Regions from separate parts of the Homo sapiens genome. Here regions 1, 2 and 3 are each linked to region 4. The links come from fine-mapping of genetic effects on gene expression. A gene starts in region 4. Each other region holds a variant in brackets. All regions are shown on one strand. Distances are from middle to middle. Region 1 overlaps GLDC (glycine decarboxylase). Region 2 overlaps GLDC (glycine decarboxylase). Region 3 overlaps RIC1 (RIC1 partner of RAB6A GEF complex). Region 4 holds the start of GLDC (glycine decarboxylase).

Region 1 (5,150 bases), 24 kb after region 4:
AGCCTTTTTTTTTTTTCTGGAGACAGTGTCTCGCTCTGTTGCCCCGGTTGGAGTGCAGTGGCGTGATCTCAGCTCACTGCAATCTCCGCCTCCCTGGTTCAAGCGATTCTCCTGTGTCAGCCTCCCAAGTAGCTGGGATTACAGGCACATGCCACCAGGCCCAGCTAATTTTTGTGTTTTTAGTAGAGACAGGGTTTCACCATGTTGGCCAGGCTGGTCTTGAACTCCTTGACCTCAAGTGATCCTCCTGCCTCAGCCTCCCAAAGTGCTGGGATTACAGGTGTAAGCCACCGTGCCCCACCAACCTGAGCCTTTTTTAACTGGCCAGCTGGGCCCAAGAGTATTATCGTGTCTCCTAAAAATGACTGATACAGTTTTTTTAATTAGTTTCCTATGGCTGCCATGTAATATAGTACCACAAACTAGGTGGCTTAAAACAACAGGAACCTGTTCACTCCCAGTTCCGTAGTCAGAAATCAAGATGTTGGCAGGGTTGGCTCATTTCTGGAAGCTCTGAAGGAGAATCAGTTCCCTGCCTCTCTCCCAGGTTCCTTGGCCTGTGGATACATTGCTCCAGTCTCTGCTGCCATCATCACATGGCATTCTTCTTGCATGTGTGTCTGTGTGTCCCAATTTTGCTCTTCTTATAAGGACACCAATCATTGGATTACGGCTGACCCTAATCCAGCATGATCTCATTTTAACTTGGTTACATCAGTGGAGACCCTATTTTCAAGTAAGGTTATATTCAGAGGTACCATGGGGTTAGGATTTCAAAGCATCATTTTTGGGAACACAATTCAACTTGTAACACTCCTCTTATCCATCTCCCTCCTGGACTATAGTGCTGGCCTCTTACTGTATCTCCCTGGGCCGGGGTCTCCCCTCAGTGACCTTTCCACACCATCAGTAGAATTATCTTACTGTATTGTAAAAAGAATCATACTATCCAGCTTTATTTCCAAAGGCTAAACTCAGTTTGACAGACAGAGCCCTTCACAGACTGTTGTCATTGGAGAGCTGGACCAACGCAGAACAGGGACCTGTCCCCCCTGCACAGGATCATAATTGAAGCCGGACTCGCCTACAAGGCACTGCTAATTAATCTTTCCTCCTACTGGGCGTCTGAATCATTCTGCCCCTAAGAAGATTATTTGGGAGGTGATTGGACTTTTTGCATGATTGTTCCTAGGGATGTTGTCCTTGCCTATCTTCTCAGATGTGGGTTTATTGCATTTTTACTTATTTCCTAAACTTTCAATGGAAGAAGGCAAGATCATCTTCCATAAGGTAGTTAGATTATATTACTCATGAAACTAATAACTTCAAGACTCTCTTTCCTTACTCTACTGTGGCAAAGTACCATATCTCTCTCTTTTTTTATTTTTTTTTTTATTGATCATTCTTGGGTGTTTCTCTCAGAGGGGGATTTGGCAGGGTCATAGGACAATAGTGGAGGGAAGGTCAGCAGATAAACAAGTGAACAAAGGTCTCTGGTTTTCCTAGGCAGAGGACCCTGCGGCCTTCCGCAGTGTTTGTGTCCCTGGGTACTTGAGATTACGGAGTGGTGATGACTCTTAACGAGCATGCTGCCTTCAAGCATCTGTTTAACAAAGCACATCTTGCACCGCCCTTAATCCATTTAACCCTGAGTGGACACAGCACATGTTTCAGAGAGCACAGGGTTGGGGGTAAGGTCATAGATCAACAGGATCCCAAGGCAGAAGAATTTTTCTTAGTACAGAACAAAATGAAAAGTCTCCCATGTCTACTTCTTTCTACACAGACACAGCAACCATCCGATTTCTCAATCTTTTCCCCACCTTTCCCCCTTTTCTATTCCACAAAACCGCCATTGTCATCATGGCCCGTTCTCAATGAGCTGTTGGGCACACCTCCCAGACGGGGTGGTGGCGGGACAGAGGGGCTCCTCACTTCCCCGTAGGGGCGGCGGGGCAGAGGCGCCCCTCACCTCCCAGACAGGGCGGCTGGCCGGGCAGGGGCTGACCCCCCACCTCCCTCCCGGACGGGGTGGCTGCCGGGCGGAGACGTTCCTCACCTCCCAGACGGGGTCGCGGCCAGGCAGAGGTGCTCCTCACATCCCAGACCGGGCGGCGGGGCAGAGGCGCTCCCCACATCTCAGACGATGGGCGGCCGGGCAGAGACGCTCCTCACTTCCTAGATGGGATGGCGGCCCGGAAGAGGCGCTCCTCACTTCCTAGGTGGGATGGCGGCCGGGCAGAGACGCTCCTCACTTTCCAGACTGGGCAGCCAGGCAGAGGGGCTCCTCACATCCCAGACCATGGGCGGCCAGGCAGAGAGGCTCCTCACTTCCCAGACGGGGTGGCGGCCGGGCAGAGGCTGCCATCTCGGCACTTTGGGAGGCCAAGGCAGGCGGCTGGGAGGTGGAGGTTGTAGCGAGCCGAGATCACGCCACTGCACTCCAGCCTGGGCACCATTGAGCACTGAGTGAACGAGACTCTGTCTGCAATCCCGGCACCTCGGGAGGCCGAGGCTGGCGGATCACTCGCGGTTAGGAGCTGGAGACCAGCCCGGCCAACACAGGGAAACCCCGTCTCCACCAAAAAAATACGAAAACCAGTCAGGCGTGGCGGCGCGTGCCTGCAATCGCAGGCACTC[G/T]TCAGGCTGAGGCAGGAGAATCAGGCAGGGAGGTTGCAGTGAGCCAAGATGGCAGCAGCACAGTCCAGCTTCGGCCCGTGGAAAGAGGGAGAGGGAGACCGTGGGGAGAGGGGGAGGGGGAGGGGGACCATATCTCTTGTGAATTTATTTCCTGGGAAAGCATGTGGAGTGCGGAGTGTGTGTGTGTGTGTGTGTGTGTGTGTGTGTCTGTGTGTGTGTGGTGGAGGGTGAAAGTATTTTACTTGAGGATAAAGATTGATGCAAATAATATTCAGATAGAGTTCAATAGGGTTAAAACAATGTTAAGTGTCTTCCTTGCCAGTTTGCTGTCTTAGGTTTTGCTTTACCTACGTTTTTCTCTGATAGAGGAAAAATAAAATAATCAATTCCCAGGGTTAAGTGACTGAGTCCCCAAGAAGATCTTAAAGAAGACAGCCATTTGCCTAAGTAGTTAAATCCCAGTTAAATTTTAGTAGCATGATCTATCTCTATGCAGAGAGGTAAAGAAAGAACCAAATGATGTCATTTCTATCTAAAAAGTACCCTTCAGTGGCAGGGCGCGGTGGCTCACGCCTGTAATCCCAGCACTTTGGGAGGCTGAGGTGGGCGGATCACGAAGTCAGAAGTTCGAGACCAGCCTAGCCAATATGGTGAAACCCCATCTCTACTAAAAATACAAAAATTAGCCAGGTGTGGTGATGTGCGACTGTAGTCCCAGCTACTCAGGAGGCTGAGGCAGAAGAATCGCTTGAACCTGGGAGGTGGAGGTTGCAGTGAGCCAAGATCGAGCCACTGCACTCCAGCCTGGGTGACAGAGCAAGACTCCCTCTCAAAAAAACAAAAAAGGACCCTTCAGTATAAGAGCTGTCCATGTAGCAGCTCTCAACTTAGTCCAGTGAGTTAAAGTGTGAGATTGGATTAGTAATCCTTTAATTTAAAGTCGTGTGACCTCAGCCAAGTGACCGTCTTCAATCCTCAGTACCCTAGGCTGTGCGAAAAGCATATGGTACAATTCCTGGTGGAATAATGTTCAATAAATGTCAAATGCTATTATTATTTTGTGATTATATGAATGACCCGAGAAAGGGTCCCACCTGCATCCAAGTACATTTATACTTCTTAATAACCAAAGTGCCTTCATGAGAATGCTGGTAGAAACTGCATAAGGGTGTGTTTTTTTGCTTTTGTTTTTGTTTGAGATGGGGGTCTCACTCTGTCACTCAGGTTTGAGTGCAGCGGCGCCATCTTAGCTCACTACAATCTCTGCCTCCCAGGCTCATGTGATCCTTCCACCTCAGCCTCCCAAGAATCTGGGACCACAGGTGTGAACCACCATGCCTGGCTAATTTTTTGCCTTTTTTGGTAGAGACGGGGTTTCACCGCCTTGCCCAGGCTTGTCTTGAACTCCTGACCTCAGGTGATCCGCCCACCTCAGCCTCTCAAAGTGCTGGGATTGCAGGTGTGAGCCACTGTTCACAGCCCTGCATGAGGGTCTTTGATTACAACTGATATTTTCTATTGTTGAGTGATGGCCTTTTTATAAGTTGCCCTTTCAGTGACACAAAGGAGGAATGTGCAACTGAGTAGAACAATTTTAGAGAAAATGTAGATTATGTGTTAATTAGACTGAAGCTGTGCCTACTTCCAGAGAGTATGAGGCAGTTTAGAAGGTAAAACACAGTATTTTACTGGGAGTAAGACAGAATTTTTATTTAGCGTATATACAGCAGAAATAGAAAGGGAACAGAAAAAGCCTGGAATGAGGCAAGTGTTAAAATGGGCAGTTCTAGCAAACAGAACCGAATAAGGAACAGTCAAAACAGTGATGGGGGGGCCAACCTTGAGGAGAAATTGAGTGTTGTTTGGGGACTTTTTTTTTTTTTGAGATGTCGCATACAGTACTTAGTGTTGGTTGGATGGATGACTCTTACATTTTCCATATAGTTATTCTGTCATAAATACTCAAACAAAATGAGGGATTTAAACTGTAATTAGAGCTCTTTTCTGAGACATCTGTCTGTAACATTTCTCTTTTTCCCACAATTAGGTGAAAATGAAATCCTTGCAACTCTGCATGCCATTTCAAGCAAAAACCAGATCTGGAGATCGTATATTGGCATGGGCTATTATAACTGCTCAGTGCCACAGACGATTTTGCGGAACTTACTGGAGAACTCAGGATGGTAATGTATTTCTCAGTTCAGGAACAGGATGACTGTGATTTGCATAATTCTCTCCATCCTCCATCTGTCCCCTTGCAGTCTCAGAGCCTCCACACTGACACCCACCTCCTAGTGCTGTCTCCAATGTCCGGGAACCTACCGGGTTTCTCTGGATCGAGAAATGTTCTTGCTCAAATGTTGAGGAAATAGAAGTTTCTTCCCACTTCCAGTCCCATAAAATCTACTAGGATGCTAAATTGTGGATCTGGTCATCTCTTCCTCTTCTGCAGCTTAATTTCTGTGCTGTATTTGAGTAAGATGTGAAACCTGCAGGTGGGCAGATTCAGG
Region 2 (5,150 bases), 46 kb after region 4:
TACTAAAAATACAAAAATTAGCTGGGCGTGGTGTCAGGAGGCTGATGCAGTAGAATCGTTTGAAACCAGAAGGCAGAGGTTGCAGTGAGCCGAGATCACGCCATTGCACTCCAGCCTGGGCGAAAGAGCGAAACTCCGTCTCAAAAAAAAAAAAAAAAATCAGTAATCATGTTTAGATGAGGAACGTTTAGAAATTGTTTCTTTATAAATTTGCACCCAAGTGCATTTGCTGAATTCACTTCAAGCTGGGAAGGAAAGAAGTAATTCTATTTATAGCATCTCCCAGTGCTGTGATTATCTGTGCTAACTGGATGCCTTATTCTTGGTGTAGAGATGCCACTGGGAAAGAAGTGTATCGTCTTGCTCTTCAAACCAGGGAGCAACACATTCGGAGAGACAAGGCTACCAGCAACATCTGTACAGCTCAGGTAAATCACACGTCTGACCTGACTACTGAATGCCTTACGATACACAGAAATGAGCTACTCATTCATTCATTCATTTGTTCATTTATTCACCACCTCCTGAGCAGTGAGCACACCAGAAATGGCAAGATCTTATTGGTGTAGAAGGCTCATTGTCTTATGAGAACCAAAATACAGTATTGGCTGGGTACGGTGGCTCATGCCTGTAATCCCAGCACCTTGTGAGGCCAAGGCAGGCAGATTGCTGGAGCCCAGGAGTTGGAAACCTGCCTGGGCGACATGGCGAAACACCATCTCTATGAAAAATAAAATAAAATAAATTAGCCGTCAGTGGTGGTATGCTCCTGTAGTCCCAGGTGCTAGGGAGGCTCAGGTGGGAGGATCACCAGAATCTGGGAGGTTGAGGCTGCAGTGAGCCATGATTATGCCACTGCACTCCAGCCTGAGTGACAGAGGGAGACTCTGTCCCCAACTCCTGCCCCCACAAAAAAAGTTAAAGAAAAAGACACTGTGTTTTACTGGTGTTCTTTATATGTACACCATTTGCCTATGCTTTCTCTTCACCATACATGTTTTAATACTAAAAAAAATAAAAAGCATTATTTGTTTCATTTTACCCATAATCACATCTTCAGATCCTGAACAGGCAAAGCGTAAGAAAGGACAAAAAAGGCCAGTCTTCACTTTTATATACAGACTTAAAATATATGTAAATAGAAAGATGGATATCAGGGTCTCTAGTATTCTTGGCGTTGGGCCAGGTTTGTTATGGGTGGCAGTTGAGACACCCTCTCTTAGGACTGAGAAGGAGCCTCTCCAGGAATGGGTTGAGGAAGGCAAAGCAAGGGCATTTGTGATGACTGTGCTTGAGGGGATGGTGGTAGTCATGAGGCACTCTTACTGGGAGATTATGACTGGCATTCTTTTTTTTGTTTTTTCGAGACAGAGTTTTACTCTGTCGCCCAGGCTGGAGTGCAGTGGCGCAATCTCAGCTCACTGCAACCTCTGCTGCCCGGTTTCAAGCAATTCTCCTGCCTCAGCCTCCTGAGTAACTGGGATTACAGGCGCCTGCCACAGCGCCAGGCTAGTTTTTGCATTTTTAGTAGAGACGGGGTTTCACCATCTTGGCCAGGTTGGTCTTGAACTCCTGACCTCATGATCCACCCACCTCGGCCTCCCAAAGTGTTGGGATTACAAGCATGAGCCACTGCACCTGGCCATGTCTGGCATTCTTTAAAAGGATGGGATAAAACAGGAAGAGCTTCCTGGGTTCTGACCAGGGTTCTGGGTTCTGCTCCTTGAAGTTGCTCCAGGGCTTAGGTCGAAGTGTTTGTGAAACCCAGCCAAACCCTAGGATCAGTTGGAGGCCCACTCCTGAGCACAGGATCCATTCTAAGTGCATCTCTTTTTTTTTTTCTTCTTCTTTTTTTTTCTTCTTTGAGATAGAGTCCTGTTCCTGCGTCACCCAGGTTGGAATGGGGTGGCGCAATCTTGGCTCACTGCAACCTCTGCCTCCTGGGTTCAAGTGATTCTTGTGCCTCAGCCTCCTAAAGAGCTGGAATTACAGGCCACCACACCCAGATAATTTTTGTATTTTTAGTAGAGGCAGGTTTCATCATGTTGGCCAGGCTGGTCTCAAACGCCTGACCTCAAGTGATGGTCCTGCCTGGGCCTCCCAAAATTTTGGGATTGTAGGTGTGAGCCATGGCACCTGGCTTCTTTTTTTTTTTTTTTCTTGAGACAGATTCTTGCTCTGTTGTCCATTCTGGAGTGCAGTGGCATGGCCATAGCTCACTGCAGCCTCAACCTTCAACCTCCAGGGCTCAAATTATTCTCCGGTCTCAGCCTCCTAAGTAGCTGGGACTATGGGTACATTCCACCACGCCCAGCTAATTTTCAAAAAAATGTTTTGTAGAGGCGAGGTCTCACTTTGTTGCTCAGGTTGGTCTCAAATTCCTGAGCTCAAGTGATCCTATCTTGGCCTCCCATAGTGATAGGATTATAGGCATGAGCCACCGTGCCTGGCCACTGTAATTGCATCTCTTCCATGAAGTGTCAGAGAGAGATGTCACAGGTGCTTCAATGGGAGGTAGAGTGCTCTTTCGTCTCAGGGCTTTGGCGTCTAGAACCACCTCTGAAAAGCTTCTCCAGGAAGGCAGTGGGCAATAAGATCTTCTTATAGTTGGTTCTGCAGCCACGGGTCTTTGGAGCCATTTCCTCAGTTGGTCCTTTTGTATTATGTTTTGCCTCAGGAAGGTGCCACCTCTTTTCAAATATGAGCTCTTCCAGTATGATAGGAAGGAAAG[G/C]TGGTTGGCACAGGCTTTTCCTCTGTTGAACAGCAAGCTGATCTTTATTTATTTATTTGTTTTTTTGGTTGTTTTTTTTTTTTTTGAGATGGAGTCTTGCTCTGTCACCCAGGCTGGCATGCAGCGGCCCAATCTCAGCTCACTGCAACCTCTGCCTTCCAGTTTCCAGCGATTCTCTTGCCTCAGCCTCCTGAGTAGCTGGGATTACAGGCGCCTGCCACCATGCCCAACTAATTTTTCTATTTTTAGTAGAGACAGGGTTTCACCATGTTGGTCAGGCTGGTCTCGAACTCCTGATCTCATGATCTGCCCACCTCGGCCTCCCAAAGTGCTGGGATTACAGGCATAAGCCGCCATGCCTGGCCACATGGTGATCTTTATATGGTGGCCTCACTTTCTGTAGCTTACCCTCCATTTGTTGAATTCTCTGCTTACGTTTTCCCTTTCGGTGCAGCTGACTGCTCCTGTCTTGCTGTTTCTCCTCAGGTTCCTCCAGGTTTCCGTCTGATCATAAGTCCATTTAGGGCCTCAGTTTTCTGCCTCTAGGTTCATTTTCCAGGTGAATTTGGGCTGTCTGCAGTGAACCAGTTATGTTCCTGTTTCTTTCTTTTTTTTTTTTTTGAGACGGAGTCTTTCTCTTGTTGCCCAGGCTGGAGTGCAATGGCGTGATGTCGGCTCACTGCAACCTCCGTCTTCCGGGTTCAAGCGATACTCCTGCCTCAGCCTCCTGAGTAGCTGGGATTACAGGCACCCACGACCATGCCTGGCTAATATTTTTTGTATTTTTAGTAGAGATGGGGTTTCACCATGCTGGCCAGGCTGGTCTCGAACTCCTGACCTCAGGTGATCCGCCCGCCTTGGCCTCCCAAAGTGCTGGGATTACAGGCATGAGCCATTGTGCCCGGCCTTATGTTCCTGTTGCTTAATTTCTTCCAGTTCATGTATAGCTGATAATTTATTATTTAACTTGGGTTGAAAGGTCTGTATCTTTTCCAGCAATTGTTAAAATGTTTGCCCTGGAGATGGCCATACTCCAGCTTGTCTGATTTTCATCCTCTTATTCTGATGATCTTCTAACTCTTCACTGTCTATTTCACTGCATATGTGCCTTTTCATAGTTGATTGCATACAAGAATTACTCATAACTCCAGTTTCACTCTTTGTGAGCATGCAAGTCTCCCTGTTTTGTTAGGAGATGACTGGTGTCTTTTGAGTTGTTCCTTTTGTGCTGTAGGTCTTTGACCCCCGCCTTCTGTTGTAGCAGCTGTTCCACATTCTTCTCACTCTTGCTCTTCTCTCTTGTCACTGGGGTGGGTGGGGGAGTCCACTCTTAGTTTCGCATCGTGGATGGGGCATGACTCTTTTTTAATCTCTGAAAGTGTGTTAATGATTCTTTTTTAAATAAATTTTTCTATAGGGAGTCTCTCTGAGCCTATTCTGGCTCAGCAGGCCCCATTCTAAAACAAAACTGAAAAAACAGGGTGCGGTGGCTCACACCTGTAATCTCAACACTTTAGGAGGCCAAGGCAGGAGGATTACTTGAGTTCAGCAGTTTAAATCCATCCCAGGCAACATAGTGAGACTCCTGTCTATATAAAAAAAGTACAAAAATTAGCCAGGTGTTGTGGTACACACCAGTATCCCAGCTACTCAGTAGACTGAGGTGGTAGGAGTGCTTGAGCTGGGGAGGTCCAGGCTGCAGTGAGCTGCAATCACACCACTGCACTCCAACCTGGGTGACAGAATCAGACCCCACCTCTACAAAACAAAAAGGAAAAGAAACAATTTTTTCTATAAATTTGTGGCATTACTACAGATGTCTGAATTTTCATTATGTTCTGTTCTTTATATTCTCTTATTTCTTTTTTTTTTGGAGACGAGTCTCGCTCCATCGCCCAGGCTGGAGTGCAGTAGCGCCATCTCGCTCACTGAAGCTCTGCCTCCCGGGTTCACGCCATTCTCCTGCCTCAGCCTCCTGTGTAGCTGGGACTACAGGTGTCTGCTACCATGCCTGGCTAATTTATTGTATTTTTAGTAGATACAGGGTTTCACCATGTTAGCCAGGATGGTCTCGATCTCCTGACCTCATGATCCACCTGCCTCAGCCTCCCAAAGTGCTGGGATTACAGGCGTTAGCCACCATGCCCGGCCATATATTCTCTTATTTCTTAGCTTCTACCACAATGAGCAGCTCTTTCATTGGCTTTTCTTATTTTTAATATAAAAATCTTTTTAAAATAGAGATGGGAGTCTTACTTTGTTGCCCAGGCTAGTATTGATCTCCAGGCCTCAAGCGATCCTCCTGCCTCAGCCTCCCAAAGTGTTGGGATCACTGGTGTGAGCCACTGCATCCAGCCTTGTTGGCTTTTCTAAAGTCAGGTGTAGTAAAGAATAATTTACACTTTATTAGCTTTTTTTA
Region 3 (5,150 bases), 950 kb after region 4:
GCAGAATGAAGGTGTTTACACAATGCATATATCATGCTTTGGCAAAAATACCTGCTCATGAAATGGTACAAAGCTTGTTAGACAATTCAAGTATTTTAAGAAGAAACAAAATATATAATTTATTATATATTTATAAGGCATATTTATAAATATACATTAATATACGTAAGAGAATTTAATTTGTAAGATTCCCCTCTAAAAGTGTTGAAATTTGCTAGATTTACGAATAGATTTTTAAGATTTGTAGATGGAACTTAAAAGTTTGAGCTACAGTTATTATTTTGAAGCTCTAATAAATTGAATATTTTTAATCCAAAGTAAACTCTAAATAAATATTCAGATTTTTTACTTTGAAAACACAAAATCACAAATGAACAAAAAGAAATGAAACAGCTGAATACATTATGGGATAGGCAAAAGGGATTAATCCCATTATAATCCCCTCAATAATGTTCTAAATTTCTATCTATTTGAGATTAACTGGGGCTAACAAAAACAAACTAACAAAATTTATAGAACTAGCTAAGAAGTGTCGGTCATTCCCAGCTCAGTATTGGTTAATCAGGTGCTCTCCCTACAAGCCATGGCAGAATTTGTGAAGGAAAGAACAGAAATGTCAATGAAGGAAACTTGGTGGGGTTGGGTGGGGACAGCCCATGGAACGATGACCCTGAGAGACAAGAAACCAGTGAAAGGAAAAAAAAAAAAAAAAGTAGGAATTTTTTTCTTAATGCAGTTTCGGATCAATTGTGTGACAGTTTTCTTAATGCATTCAAAGTTGTTGTGGTTCTTAAAGCCAAGAGGTTTACACATCACTGACTATATAAAACTAATTCTGTAGACAATTTGTCTTATTTACAGATAGATAACTTTCAGATATGCTTTAAAGTTTAATCTTGGTAAACCACCACTAATTTTAATACTGTATATGAAATCCAATAATATAATTTAGTTTCAGAATCAGAGTGAACATACATCAGAAAGTGTTGTAAATCTCAGATTATTGCAAAAATCTAACATGTGAAAAATCCAACAATTACATTTTATTTACAAAAATTGATTTACATAGGATTTGTTAAAATCCAATTTATGAAACAGAACAAATCTAGAGACACTAGGTTGCCCTTACCACTTGTGTGGAATTTGTCTCTCTAGAAAGTTTTATAAAATGTTGCTTTTATATTTTAGTTATATATGCAATATACAAACAGTTTTTTGAAAAAAAAAAAAAGACATTGAAATAAATGTAAGCTATACATACATTTAAGAAAGATGAATAAAAACATTTACCCACTAATTCCAGTTCAGAATTGCAGGTGGCCACGGCCCATCCCAGCAGCTTGGGGCCAAAGCTGAAGCCCACCTTGGACCAGATGTCATTCCATTGGAGGGCGCACTCACACACATACCCCACACTCGCTCAGACTGGGGCCATGCAGATGCTGATTCACCCAAAGCGTACATCTTTGGGATGTGGGAGGAAACTACAGTACTACACAGACATAGGGAGAATATGAAAATTCCATATTGACAGTGGCCCTGGCCAGGGATCAATTTTTTTCCCTCATCGATGTTATGACATTATTCAAGGATATGATGTAAGGAGTTTCTCGCTATATTAAAGAAGCTATCTTTGTTAATACTTGGAATTTTCAAGTATTGTATAAATGAATACTCTGCCTAAGTTCCCCAGAGGAGTCAAGTCTGTTATTGCTTACATTTGATACATGACTCAATCTGAGACTTGCTTTTGAACAAGTACACCTGTATTTTTTGGCAACCTCTTAAAGTTTTGTCATTCTTCAAATTCTAGTTCACTCTAAAACCTCGCAGTTAATGAACTAGAATCCCCTTCTTTTTTAAACACTTATAAATTGTCATAAATATGCAATGGAGGCACATTATATTTACATAATTCAGAAGGCAACCTAGACAACAATACCAGTTGCAACTTATTAAGAATCTAATCACTCATTTTTCTCATTTTATAGACACACAGCACAGAAAGCAACTTTAGAAAATGGCTTTTCCAAAGTCTTGGGAAAAAGCAGAATCTGAACTGGAACCTGGGCCTCTCTGATTCCAACTGCCATATTTTTTTCCACATCTCTAAACTGCTGGATATTTATCTGAGGTATCAATAGCAAGTCTAAGAAAAATATCACAAGAAAGTAGGAAAAATGAAGCTAAGCCGGTTTTATTAATGTATTTTCCATACATTAACTTTTGTAACTAAAAGTAAAGCCTCCCAGTTTTCTATTCCAATGAATGATAAGGCATTCATGTTAATGAGTGGCCCTTAAAGGGCCATGAAAAAAATAAAATGTTTCTATGGGATGGGTCAACCACTAGTCAAACTTCCCAGGACACTGAGCGGGGAGTAATTTCTCATCAAATTGGTAAAAACCAAAAATCAAACCACAATACCAAGTGTAGCATAAAAACTACACAGAAGTCTTAAAAGAAAAGAAGACTGCTTTTAAAGCATGTCAAG[T/C]ATGCTTTGAGGGCTAGATCAGGTGATACAGAAAACTGATTCACAAATTCAACAGCCATTTCTTTGAGCAAATTCTTCTGTGCAGGAGATACCAAATGCTTTAAGTGCCAGCTAAAGAAAAGAATAATGTGGCAAATAACCTAATAGATTTGGGGTGTGGGGGAACAGAAACTTCAAGAATGCAATTAATTATAGTGTTTTTCCTTGCAACATAACTTACCTAAGTCCTGACTTCTCTCCCAAGTATAGAACTCAAGTCTCCTTATCTACAAAACTTCCCTTGACAACTAATCACTTTACCCTGAAATGCTATTATGACTTTTCAAGATATTTACCTGGCAATCTGTTATTTTATATTGCCATTAACTTTAAACAATTATTCATTAGCATCTTCAGTAGCAGTGTATAGCAAGTGTTTTACAGATAGCAGGCATACAATAAATGAGGATGAATCCATTTGAGATGATTCTGAAATGTGCAAGGCTTGATCTAGAAAGTTCTGGCAGTCCTATGTAAATTCTGGGACTAAGAGGCTTTAGTTCTCCAACCATAATTCTGGAAAGGCTCAGAACGATTTCTTTTCCTAAAACTCCAGGCCTCATATTTCATCATTTGCATTCATCATTGTTTACTGGAATGCTTACAATAATAAAAAGTATTTTTGGATGAAATGAAATAATGATATCTTGGATGTGCTTAAATATACTCCAGTGGAAAAAGACTGAAAATTGTTCAAACTGACTGATGGACACACAGATGGTCATTTTATTATTCTACTAATAGAGTACCTGGTACCAAACTAGTGCCCAGAAACAAGAGAACTGGACAAAATAGATCAACCAACCATATTCAGACATGAGACAGCAGGCAGCACAGGACTGATATCATGAGGGAAGGAAAACAAACAGGTTTTCTGGCAGAAGTCACCATCTAACCTCTTAAGGTTTTGTCCATCATGTAGAGTGAGAGAAACCAAGCATAGTATGGCAGCCTTGTTAAGTTGAGGAGAAAAAGATTAAAGTTCAGAGAAGCAGAAGCAGCTATTTGTGAAGCAGAGCACCAGTGATGTGGGAGCCACACAGAGAAAAGCTCTAGAAACCTGCAGGGGTTTCCCGAGTCTTACTGAATACTATCCAAATACATAGTGACACTCCACAAATACAGGCAAAGAATGACTACTAGGGTTTTTGGCTACCCAGTTCATATAGGACTGGGAGACATTTCGGTTCTGACTAGCCAGAATGGAGAGACCTTCTTAAAGACCTAGGACATTCAGTGGACTTCAGAAGGGCTAAGCTAGCTTAACAGTTAAATCCATCCTAAAAGACATACAAAAAGCCTCAAAAGATCAGTAAGATCTCCAAGCAGCTTACCTGCCACCCAAAACAACCTTCAATACTCTTTAAAGGAAAAGGACAAAAATCAGACAATGGATAATGTAATACAGTATCTAACATCCAATCTGAAATTACTAGACATGTGATATGACCCAGCAATTCTATTCCTAGGTATTTATTTACTCAAGAGATACAGGACAACTGGAGAGTGAAATGAGATTAGAATCTAAAAAAGCAAAGTTCACATTTTTTTACTTTTTATCTTTATAGATCTCTCATTGTTGGATTTTTTTTTAAGTAAGAAGGTATTGATGAATTAGTAGTGTAAATTTTTAAAACATACTATGGGAATGCACATGCCAGATCAGTTATTTATTGGGTACAGGGGCGGATATAGGAGAGTTGAGGGCAGAAGGTTTATAGAGTACAACAGATGTCTGACCTGAGCTTGAAAACCAACTCAGATAAATTTCTTACATAAAAAAAGATAGCAGGGGAGTCATACTGAATAGAGCAAATAACAAAGGAATAGAGGCATTAAATAGGAATTGTGGGTTCGATGTGTTCAAGATATGGAGAAAGTAGGTTCTAAATGCCAGGCCAGAGAGCTTGGACTTCGTTTTGGAAAAAAAAAAAAATTGTTATCAATGCAAATGATAAACTTCATTATGTAGGTGAAAGAGACTAGGGGAAGAGAAATGAGTTAGTGAATAAGCTTTTTTAATAGACAAGGAGGAGGACATGAGGGCCCCTAAAAAGACCAATGAGAGTAAAATAGAGTTAAATGAATTCCAGAGGCACTGGAAAACTCTAATCAATCAGTAAAATTTGATGACTGAACAAATATGTAAAGTGAAGAAACAATCCAGAGGAAGAAACAAAGAATTAAAGGTTTTCTACCTCATACAACGTACAAAAGATGATGGTAACTGCAAAAAAGTTTAGCAAAGCAATAGCATGTTTGGCTTGGCAGGGGGTAAGTGAGTGAGGTTTAGACATGAATCTGACATTAAGAAGACATAATAGGCCGGGTGCAGTGGCTCACGCCTGAAATCCCAGCACTTTGGGAGGCCGAGGCAGGCAGATCACTTGAGGTCAGGAGTTCAAGACCATCCTGGCCAACATAGTGAAACCCCGTCTCTACTAAAAATACAAAAATTAGCTAGGTGTGGTGGTGCATGCCTGTAGTCCCAGCTACTCAGGATTGAGACATGAGAATCGCTTGAACCCAGAAGGCGGAGATTGCAGGGAGCCAAGATCACGCCACTGCACTCCAGCACAGGCGACAGAGCGAGACTCTGTCTCAAAAAAAAAAAAAA
Region 4 (5,150 bases):
GTAGAGATGGGGTTTCACGGTGTTAGCCAGGATGGTCTCGATCTCCTGACCTTGTGATCCGCCCACCTTGGCCTCCCAAAGTGTTGGGATTACAGGCGTGAGCCACCGCGCCCGGCCAATTTTTGTATTTTTAGTAGAGATGGGATTTCACCCTGTTGGCCAGGCTGGTCTCAATCTCCTGACGTCAAGTGATCCGCCAGCCTTGGCCTCCCAAAGTGCTGGGATTACAGGCATGAGCCACCACGTCCGGCTCTTGGGTTTTTATAGAGGCTTTATTAGGAAGGCATGATTGATTAAGCATTGATCATTGACCCTCTGCCCTACTGAGAAGTTGAGGGTGGGGCTGAAAGTCTCAACTCCCATTATGTCTTTGTCTTTCCAGTGACCAGCCCTATTCTGAAGCTGTTAGTCACATTAGCATACAAAAAGGCAGGAGTCTGGAGATTCCCAAGACTTTAGGAGTTGCAGGCCAGGAAATGGGATGAATACCAGATATGTATTTCACAACATCACACAGACAAATAAACAAAAAACACTCAATGCATTTCAAGCAGAGGAGAATTAAATGTCAGGAATGGGTGCATACAAAACCACTGGAAGAACTGGAAGAGCAAAAACCAGGGAATACCAACGCTATCTTCAGGTCAACCACTGAAGCTCTAGTCTAGTACACAGAAATTCCTGCTGGGGAACTGCAGGACATTCCCATTGGTGGATACAGCTTCCCAGCTACCTCAAGATGGGGTGCTGGTAAGGAAGCATGTCATGTCTGCAGTGGTCCATGCATCTGTCTGCTGCAGTCAGAAAATAAGAAAACAGTTTTTACCTTTGTTCCATTTCCCAATTCTCTCTCTCTCTCTTTTTTTTTTTTTAGGCAGAGTCTTGCTCTATCACCCAGGTTGGAGTGCAGTGGTGCGCTCTCCGCTCACTGCAACCTCTGTTTCCCAGGTTCAAGTGATTCTCATGCCTTAGCCTCCTGAGTAGCTAGGACTACAAGCACGCCCACCAAACTTGGCTAAATTTTTTTTCATATTTGTAGTAGAGATTGAGTTTCGCCATCTTGGCCAAGCTGGTCTTGAACTCCTGTCCTCAAGTGACCTGCCCGCCTCGGCCTCCCAAAGTGCTGGGATTACAGGAGTGAGCCACCGCACCCGGCCCCAATTCTCATATACATATATGTGTGTATATATACATGTTTTTTTTTGGCAGAAGGCAAATAACATCCATCACCACGGAGCCAAAGGGATCTGGGAATTATTGTTCCCTGGCTTCCAGTCCCTCTGATACATAGAAACAACATAGACAGGAATAGGAATAAATGCAGATTACCTCCTCCCTCCAATCCTTCCCCACAACCCCCACCATCTGGCACTGAGGAGATCTCCCAACTTTTATGAAGGTTGTAATTTCAATTCCAAATGGCCGAAAAACTTTTCGGAGACATTCAGCCCAGCCGTCCTAGCTCACCACCCGCCTCCGTCTGCCATACAGACATTTTACCTACTGTTCTTTGTGGTGTATTTTCCTGCCCTCTTTTCCATCTCTACTTTCCTGCCTCTCTGGATAGTCTGTGCCTCCTGGGTACGGAGCCCAGAATCTGTTAAGGGTGATTGGAGGAGGAAACTTAGCAGATAAGCAAGAAAGAGAACAGGTTTTATTTTCCCCTAGTCTAAGTACAAGTAATGTTCTGATTACTTCTGTCCTCTCTTCCCCATATTAGAACAACTGGAATTTTAAAAGTTCATTCTCTTGCTAAAACTGTCATGAGACAGCTGGAGATGGTACATTTACAAAAAATCCAGTTCTAGATGGCTAACTTTCAAAGTAAGACGACAGTGAACAATGTCTATCTTAATATCCTTTGTACTTTTGCTGGGCGCAGTGGCTCACGCCTGTAATGACGGATCACGAGGTCAGGAGATCGAGACCATCCTGCCTAAAACGGTGAAACCCCGTCTCTACTAAAAATAAAAATAAAAAATGGCCGGCCGTGGTGGCACGTGCCTGTAGTCCCAGCTACTCAGGAGCCTGAGGCAGGACAATCGCTTGAACCCGGGAGGTGGAGGTTGCAGTGAGCCAAGATCGCGCCACTGCACTCCAGCCAGGGCGACAGAGCGAGATTCCGTCTCAAAAACAACAACAAAATATCCTTTGTAGTTTTACACACACACGTATATGTATATACAGTACATATATTTAAAAAAACATATACACACACACACACAGTTCTTTTTTTTTTTTTTTTCCTGAGTCTCGTTCTGTGGCCCACGCTGGAGTGCAGTGGTGCGATCACATCTCACTGCAGCCTGAAACTCCCTGACTCAAGCAATCCTCCCACCTCAGCCTCCAGAGTAGCTGGGACTTCAGAAGCACGCAACCACGCCCCACTAATTTTTGTATTTTTTGTAGAGACAGGGTTTCACAATGCTGCCCAAGCTGGTCTCGAACTCCTGGGCTCAAGCTATCCTACCGCGTCGGTTTCCGAAAGTGTTGCGATTACAGGCGTGAGCCATAGCGTTACATGTGGTGGGGGGGAAGAGAGAGAAAGAGAGAGAGTGAGAAGAAGGAGGAGGAGGAGGAGGAGGAGAAAGAAGGAAGAAAGAAAAGAAAAGAAATATAGAGAGGGTGTTCAAATCTACTGTTCAAGTGCTTTCCATGTACATATAATCTCTTTTTAAAATCCCATCCAGCTCTGTTGAGATGAGAAAACTGAAGCTCTGAGAGGTTGAGTAACTTTATCACGCTCCCGCAAAGATAAAAGAACCGCCATCTGCCCATATTAATTTCCCTGAGATGAAATGTGACAGAGAAAGATACCTCAAAATTAAGGAAATGGAGAGCTTCGAGAATCATCTTCCATCTCCGCCGAGTCCCCCAGGAACTTGGCCCGGAGTCTTTGGGCTGTCCCACCTGATCTTGCCCCAGTGCGGCTCCACACCCTGGCGGGCGGCGTACGGAGCGTCCCGGCCCCCGGCACCAGCCAGCGTCGGAGTGGGTAGGACTGGAGATGGCAGCCTCCGGTCCAGGGGAAGCGGGACTCCACGGAAGGGCTGGGAAGAGGGTAGGAAGAGGGGGCGGGGGCGGGAACTGTTCCGCCCCCTCCCCCTCTGTCTACTTTCATTGGCCAAGGGCTTCCTGGCCCCAACCCACCTCCCGCCTCCAGGGCGCCGCTTAAAGTGTGCGGAGCAGGTGCCTTGGGTGGAGCCACAACTTTGCGCGAGTGTCTTGGTTGAGCGCAGCGCCCATTCATTGCCCGCGAGCGTCCATCCATCTGTCCGGCCGACTGTCCAGCGAAAGGGGCTCCAGGCCGGGCGCAGCCGCCACCCGGGGGACCGAGGCCAGGAGAGGGGCCAAGAGCGCGGCTGACCCTTGCGGGCCGGGGCAGGGGACGGTGGCCGCGGCCATGCAGTCCTGTGCCAGGGCGTGGGGGCTGCGCCTGGGCCGCGGGGTCGGGGGCGGCCGCCGCCTGGCTGGGGGATCGGGGCCGTGCTGGGCGCCGCGGAGCCGGGACAGCAGCAGTGGCGGCGGGGACAGCGCCGCGGCTGGGGCCTCGCGCCTCCTGGAGCGCCTTCTGCCCAGACACGACGACTTCGCTCGGAGGCACATCGGCCCTGGGGACAAAGACCAGAGAGAGATGCTGCAGACCTTGGGGCTGGCGGTAAGGACCTCCACCCGGCCCTCCGCGGCCTCCCCTCCGCCCTGCCCGGGCTCTGCCTGCGCGGCCTCCCGGCTCCTACCCTGAGCTCTGCTGCGCTCCGCGTGGTCCCCGCACCCTGGGTCCCGGGCCGTGGCGTGGAAGCAAATTCGTGCCTTTGGTCCTCGTGCCTTCTTACTTCTTAACAGCTTACTTTCTCCTGCACCCAGTCTTCGTGCCTCAAAAGTGTACATTTTTAAACCACCCCCAGCCCAAGTGGCCCTGTGGATGGACCTAAACTTTGCAAGAGGAGGAAGACCCCCTGATTAAGAGTGGGCTTACCGGTTAGCTCCGGTTGCAACTGAAATCCAACCCCGAGTGGCGGAATCTCCACCCCACTTCACGATTTTCTTTCCTCCAAATCATTCTGGCTTGCTCAGAGTTTTCCTTTTCTTTTAAAAAGAACCCTAATTAGGCGATTTCAATGAGGTTCCCACAAGGCTTTGTAGTCGCAAAACACAGAGGTGACTCTTTTAACTCAGAGGCACTTTCCTCTGCCTTGCGTTTTAATTTTAGAGCATTGATGAATTGATCGAGAAGACGGTCCCTGCCAACATCCGTTTGAAAAGACCCTTGAAAATGGAAGACCCTGTTTGTAAGTGGCCGGGAGGGCTCCCTTGGACTTAGATTATTCTGGCCTATTTGTCTTTTGTGGTTCCCTGAAAATCGAGCTCTGGGGTAAGGATTGCTCAGGACTGGGAATGTGTGGATTAAAATAAAACAGTGGCGGGTACCTCCGGAGCCGCGGGAAGGTGGGATATTTGGTTCTCGGAGCAGACAGTTTTGTGTTAGGAGAGAGTCGGTGTTGTGCGGTTCTTGGTCTTTATCCTAGGGCCCCCGCGAGCTTCCCCTGCGTTTTGTAGCAGATTCCCCACTTCCCAGGCACCCTCTCACCGGCCAGGGTGCTCTCATACTTTGGGTTGAGAGGTGTCATTACCTGCGCAGACCCGGATAGACTCAAAGGATCTAGGAATTGCCTAAGGTCGTGCAACTGGGGAAGTGACCAGACATCTCGCCTCCCTCCCCCAGGCTTCTTTAGATCGCAGTATCTTCCAATTGTTTTCTTACCTCACGTCCAAATTTTATTATTTACCAACTGAAAGACAGCAGTACTTTTCGAGTCCGAATGGTTTTTCTTTTCTTTTCTTTTTTTTTTCGTTTTTTTTTTTTTTTTTTTTTGAGACAGAATCTCTGTCGCCCAGGCTGGAGTGCTGTGGCTTGATCTCGGCTCACTGCAACCTCCGCCTCCCTGGTTCAAGCAATTCTCCTGCCTCAGCCTCTTGACTAGCTGGGATTACAGGGGCGCACCACCACACCAGGCTCATTTTTATATTTTTATTAGAGACAGGGTTTCTTCATGTTGGCCAGGCTGGTGTCGAACTCCTGACCTCAGGCAATCCGTCTGCCTCGGCCTCCCAAAATGCTGGGATTACAGGCACGAGTCACTGTGCCCTAC

The links.
Region 1: its variant is fine-mapped to the expression of GLDC in whole blood (TOPMed, PIP 0.99).
Region 2: its variant is fine-mapped to the expression of GLDC in lung (TOPMed, PIP above 0.99).
Region 3: its variant is fine-mapped to the expression of GLDC in whole blood (TOPMed, PIP above 0.99).

The regions. Positions count from the first base shown.
Region 1 is chr9:6,619,857-6,625,006 of GRCh38, reverse strand. It overlaps GLDC (glycine decarboxylase), which reads left to right. Exons shown (of 25, transcript NM_000170.3): 3 at 4,688-4,823. Among named protein-coding and RNA genes, the nearest start is that of GLDC, 23 kb to the left of the region's middle. RefSeq lists an enhancer at 1,304-2,099. The variant G/T (reference allele first, on the strand shown) is at 2,641.
Region 2 is chr9:6,597,387-6,602,536 of GRCh38, reverse strand. It overlaps GLDC (glycine decarboxylase), which reads left to right. Exons shown (of 25, transcript NM_000170.3): 8 at 332-428. Among named protein-coding and RNA genes, the nearest start is that of GLDC, 46 kb to the left of the region's middle. RefSeq lists an enhancer at 3,850-4,089. The variant G/C (reference allele first, on the strand shown) is at 2,732.
Region 3 is chr9:5,695,577-5,700,726 of GRCh38, reverse strand. All of the region lies in intron 3 of RIC1 (RIC1 partner of RAB6A GEF complex), which reads right to left. Among named protein-coding and RNA genes, the nearest start is that of INCR1, 68 kb to the right of the region's middle. RefSeq lists an enhancer at 3,426-3,545. The variant T/C (reference allele first, on the strand shown) is at 2,495.
Region 4 is chr9:6,643,753-6,648,902 of GRCh38, reverse strand. It overlaps GLDC (glycine decarboxylase), which reads left to right and starts at 3,174. Exons shown (of 25, transcript NM_000170.3): 1 at 3,174-3,658; 2 at 4,211-4,289. The coding sequence starts at 3,404. RefSeq lists enhancers at 69-624, 625-1,180, 2,167-2,266, 2,317-2,426, 3,407-3,964 and silencers at 3,097-3,346, 3,417-3,616, 3,657-3,726.